Regions from separate parts of the Homo sapiens genome. Here region 2 is linked to region 1. Evidence: fine-mapped expression QTL. A gene starts in region 1. The other region holds a variant in brackets. All regions are shown on one strand. Distances are between the middles of the regions.

Evidence for each region. PIP is the estimated chance that this variant, and not a neighbour inherited with it, causes the effect.
Region 2: its variant is the best candidate, but not a certain one, in a credible set for the expression of CLPP in hippocampus (GTEx, PIP 0.89).

The regions. Positions count from the first base shown.
Region 1 is chr19:6,360,175-6,362,959 of GRCh38, reverse strand. It overlaps CLPP (caseinolytic mitochondrial matrix peptidase proteolytic subunit), which reads right to left and starts at 1,429. Exons shown (of 6, transcript NM_006012.4): 1 at 1,188-1,429; 2 at 1,020-1,091; 3 at 418-514. The coding sequence starts at 1,385. It also overlaps a transcript of ACER1 not described here. RefSeq lists an enhancer at 1-754 and a silencer at 953-1,182.
Region 2 is chr19:5,523,223-5,526,038 of GRCh38, reverse strand. No RefSeq gene overlaps it. Among named protein-coding and RNA genes, the nearest start is that of TINCR, 43 kb to the left of the region's middle. The variant C/A (reference allele first, on the strand shown) is at 1,589.

The DNA.
Region 1 (2,785 bases):
CGCCACATTGCCCGGCTAATCTTTGTACTTTTTTTGTAGAGATGGGGTCTCACTACGTTACCCAGGCTGGTCTTGAACTCCTGAGCTCGAGCAATCCGCCCGCCTCAGCCTCCCAAAGTGTTGGGATTACCGGTGTGAGCCACTGTGCCCGGCCTAAAATCTACCAATTTTTAAATGTCAGCCGGGTCAGGTTGGCAGAACAGTATGTGCAGGATCAAAGAGGCCACATCCTGACTTGTGAACCGAGGCTCAAAAGCCAGCAACAGGCACCTTTTGGTGGTTTAAAGCCACTTCTGGAACTCTGACGCTCTGCACCCTTTCCCAGAGAGAGAACATCCCTGACCCGGGATTCTGGTCCCCTGAGTCACCCGTGTGCCCTGACGAGTGCCCCTGGCACCCAGGAAAGACCCTGCTCACCAGGGCTGTTGATGTACATGTGGATGGGCTTCTTGTTGCTCTCGGATTGCAGGAAGAGGAGCTGTGCGATAACAAGGCTGGCAACGCTGTCATCGATCTGCAGGTGGAGAGGGCAGGGGTGTCCCCAGATTCGGGGTGGGGAGAGAGTTTTAAGGGAGGCTGGGGATGGGTCAGGGAACCAGGAAGGGGGACCAGAGCCCAAAGTAAAAGGGATGGGGAAGAATTTAGGCCCCAGAAGGGGATGGGGAGAGAGTAGTGGAGAGGACCCAGGGGGTTTGGAGCACAGGAAGGGGGGAGTCAGGGGGCTAGGGACACAGGAAAGGAAGGGGTGAGAATGGCTGGGGAGAGTCTTGAGCGTAGGAATGAGGGGAGCGGTGCCAGGTGTCAGGAAGGAAGTCGGAGATTAAGAGCCGAGGAGCAGAGAAGGGGTGAGGAGCGGGTTGGGGGACCGGGAGCCAGGAGGGGAGTCAGAAGGGGAGGGAAGGGGGTTAGAAGGGGAGCGGAGCCTGAGGGAAAGTCTGGGGCCAGGGAAGGAGGGGCGCAGGGAGTGTCGGCAGGCGCTTGGGAGAGTCCTGGGGAGGGTCCCGGCGCGGGGCGCTCACCGGGCCCATGACGCACACGATGCGCTCCCGCAGCAGCCGCGAGTAGATGTCATAGGCGCGCTCGCCGCGACCCTGGGGGTAGAAAGATGGAGGTGAGGGGCCGGGGCAGCCAGCCGATCCCCACCCAGCCCGGAGCCCCCGAACCGTGTCCCCGCCCGGCCGCCGTACCGTCTGCTCCACCACGATGGGAATGAGCGGGAGAGCCCGGGTCGCCGTCGCGTGCAGGCACCGCTGCAGGGCCAGGCCGTTCTGGAGTGTCCGCTGCGGCGGCCGCTGCGCTGGAAAGTGAGCGGCGAGGCGAGGCCCCAGCGCGGGGTACCTGCATGACGCCACCCGGGCCCCCCCTACCAATATTCCGGGCCACATCCCTCCGCACGCCCCGGTCGGCTTCCGTCCGATGGCGGAACTACAGCTTCCGGCGTGCTTTGCGCCTGGGAGCTCGCTCGCTAGGCCGCTCACTTCCAGGAGTCTGGGCGGGCGCCATTAAGGGTGAGGCGGGGATAGGGACGGAGCCTGAAAGGGAGGAGCCAATGAAGTAAATTGAGTGGGCAGGGCTGGAGAAGTTTTAGAGTCTCCAGTTCGAGTCCCCTTACCGACCAATTCGTCTTCTTTTTTTTTTTTTTTTGAGACGGAGTCTTGCTCTGTCACCCAGGCTGGAGTGCGGTGGCACGATGTTGGGTCACTGCAACCTCTGCCTTCTGGGTTCAAGCCATTCTCCTGGCTCAGCTGCCCCAGTAGCTGGGATTACAGATGCACACCACTGCACCCGGTTAATTTTGTTATTTTTAGTAGAGATGGGTTTCACCTTGGCCAGGCTGGTCTTGAACTCCTGACCTCGTGATCTTCCCACCTCGGCCTCCCAAAGTACTGGGATTACAGGCGTGAGCCACCGCGCCCGGCCTCGTCTTCGTTTTCTACTGTTTCTGCTTTATTTATTTTTATTTTTTTGAGACAGAATCTCACTCTGTGGCCCAGGCTGGAGTGCAGTGGCGCCATCCTAGCTCAATGTGGCCTCAAATTTCTGGGCCCAAGCAACCCTCCCTCCCACCTTGCTCTCCAGAGTAGCTGGGACTACAGTTGTGTGCTACCACATCTGGCAAATATATATATATATGTATTAGAGATGGGGTCTTACTATGTCGCCCAGGCTGGTCTCAAACTCCTGGCCTCAAGTGATCCTCCCACCTTTGCCTCCCAAAGTGCTGGGACTACAGGCATGAGCCACCACACCCCACTTATTCCTTATTTTAAAAATAGCTGCAGGGCCGGGCACAGTGGCTCACGCCTGTAATCTTAGCACTTTGGGAGGCTGAGGTGGGCGGATCACGAGGTCAGGAGATCGAAACCATCCTGGCTAACACGGTGAAACCGCGTCTCTACTAAAAATACAAAAAATTAGCCGGGCGAGGTGACGGGCACCTGTAGTCCCAGCTACTCAGGAGACTGAGGCAGGAAAATGGTGTGAACCTGGGAGGTGGAGCTTGCAGTGAGCTGAGATGGCGCCTCTGCACTCCAGCCTGGGCGACAGAGCCAGACACCGTCTCAAAAAAAAAAAAAAAAGCTGCAGTGTTCCCACAGCTCATCTTGGAAGAGGGGTCCCAGAGAGGACTTAGCCTGGGTCTTGGCCTTGAAGAGCTTCCAGCCTGGTGTGGCCGACTTCTACTGAGACCTCCTCATTCATTTTTTGGCCACCTGTGGAGTAGATTGTGGGAGCCCAGAGAAGGGTGTTGTGGATTCTTCCTGGAGATCAGACCGGAAAGCATTCC
Region 2 (2,816 bases), 840 kb after region 1:
CTACAATGAAGTTGTGTGTGCCGGGGTTTGCTTAACATTTATCTTCCCAACTAGGTGCTAATCTCCAATCGAGCAGGGGCCTCGGCTGTTTTAATTCCCGTATCTTCAGTACCCAGTGTAGATATGGGCACTCAGCAAGAGCCTAACGTTTGCTGAATAATGAATCAATGGGTGTGTGGGTGTGTGTGTATGGGTGGATGGATGGGTGGGTGGGAAATGTGGGGTGAGGGAGGGGAGGATGGATGGGCAGATGGATGAAAGGTGAGTGGAGGGATGGTTGAATAGGGGATGGGAGATGGAGGGATAGGGGATGAAAGGTGGATGGGTGGGGGATGGGAGGGTGTGTGTGTGTGTGTGTGTGTGTGTGTGTGTGTGCGTGTGTATGAATGGATAGATGGATGGGTGGATGAATGAGTGTGTGATGGATGGATGGATGGGTGGATGGGTGGATAAATGAGTAGATGGTTAGGTGGGTGGGTGGTGAATGGATGAATGGATGGGTAGGTGGGTGGATGGATGGATGGATGGATGGATGGAAGGATGGATGGATAAATGGATGGATGGGTGGATAAATGAGTAGATGGTTAGGTGGGTGGGTGGTGAATGGATGAGTGGATGGGTAGGTGGGCGGATGGATGGATGGATGGATGGAAGGATGGATGGATGGATGGATAAATGGATGGATGGATAAATGGATGGATGGATGGATGGATGGATAAATGGATGGATGGATAAATGGATGGATGGATAAATGGATGAATGGATGGATGGATAGATGGGTAGATGCATGCATGAATGGATAAATGGATGGGTAGGTGGATAGGTGAATGGGTGCATGGATGGATGGATGGATAGATGGATGGATGGATGGATGGATGGATGGATAGCTGCATGGATGGATGGGTGGGTGGTGGGTGGATGGGTGAATGGATGGATGATGGATGGATGAGTGAATGGTTGGGTGTGTTGATGGACAGGTGGATGGCTGGGTTGATGGATGGATGAGTGGATGAATGGATGGTGAGTGGATGGATGGGTGGATGGATGGATGGTTTTTGGGTAGGTGGTTGAGTGGAGGTAAGGATGGATAGGCCTGTAGGTAGATGGTGGAGGAAAGGGTAGATGAGTGAATGGGGATTGTAGGGGTGGGTATATGGGTGGGTGTGTAGGTGAGTGAAAGGGGGATGGGATATGAAGGTTGGGGGATGGAAGGCGGACGATGGGGAATGGGTGGGCGGGTATATGGGTGAGTGTATGGGGGTTTGGGAAATGGAAGGAAGGATGGATGGGTAGGTGTTGGCTGGATGGGTGAAGGATGGATCCGTGATGGAGAAGGCAGATACGTGAATGGTCGGATGATGGAGAATGGAGCCCCACTTTGATGAGCTGGGCTTGGCTGGCTGTGGATCCTGGTGAAACCCTCAACTGGGGCCTGTCAAGTGGCTCGGAGCATTAAGCAGACTCCATGTGTTGAAGTTGGGGGAGGGGGCGGATAGATGCGACTCAGGCCTCAGCCTCTCTCTGCAGGACTCAGCTTGTCTTCAGCAGGGAAGCCTGGGGAGCCAGGCCTGCCAGTGGGAGTTCACTC[C/A]CCCCTCGCCACCCTGCAAACTCATGTTCCTGCTACCAACAGCAAACTGCATCCCCCTAACGAGGGCCCCACTTTTAGCTGGGAATGTGCCCCCTTCCACCCTCACTTGATTCAGTCCTGCTGCCCGCCGATTCAATTATTCCACTGCTGGGGTGGCTGGCAATTTTCAGTTGGGGTTGAACGCTGTCTCATATCTGTATGACTTTTAACAGCATGGACACCCAGAGACAGAAACACAGAGGTGAGAGAGAAGAGGGGAGAGACAGAAGCAGACAGACACAAACCAAGGGAGAAAGAGAGGGAGAGACTGTCAGAAAGAGAGAGACAAAGACAGAGAAGGGAGGGTCTGGATTAATCAAGCTCCCGTGGCCTCAGGGGGACTTCCAACCTATGCAAAACAGCAGCCTCCCTGCTAAGATCCTGACCTCTTTTGTTTTTGAGACAGAATCTTGCTCTATTGCCCAGGCTGGAGTGCAGTGGCGTGATCTCAACTCACTGCAACCTCCGCCTCCCGGGTTCAACAATTCTCCTGCCTCAGGCTCCCAAGTAGCTGGAATTACAGGCACCCGCCACCATGCCCGGCTCATTTTTTGTATTTTTGGTAGAGACGGGGTTTCACCATGTTGGCCAGGCTGGTCTCCTGACCTCAGGTGATCCACCTGCCTCAGACTCCCAAAGTGTTGGGATTACAGGCGTGAGCCACCGTGCCAGGCCCCTGACCTCATTTTAACCCCTTCCCTCCACACATGCACTTCACACTCAGCCCAGATTTTGCAGAGGCTGACCTGGCTCATGGCCGGCACAGCTCATAGATAAAAGGACAGCTGTTGGGAGGCAGTGAGCTCCTCACTCAGGGAGGAGTCCAGGCATGGGCTATGCACTGAAAATTCCTTTCAGATCCTAGGTGTGTGCAAAGTCCCCATTTTTGTTTTCGTTTGTTTTTGTTGTTGTTTTCTTTTTTTGAGTGTCAGGGACTGGGACGGAGTGAAGAGTGGGAGAGAGGGAGGAAGGGGAGGCAGGGAGGGGACGGGGCAAATCATGCAGGCCTTTGTGGGCTGCTGGGAGGACTTGGGCTTTTACGTCCAGGGAAGTGGGAGCTATGGAGGGCTGTGGACAGAAGAGGGACAGGACCTGACTCAGGGGCTCACAGGCGCCCTCTGGCTGCCAAAGAGAGGACAGGTCGTGGGGGTGAAGATGGAAGCCTGGGAATAGGATGGAGGAAAATGCG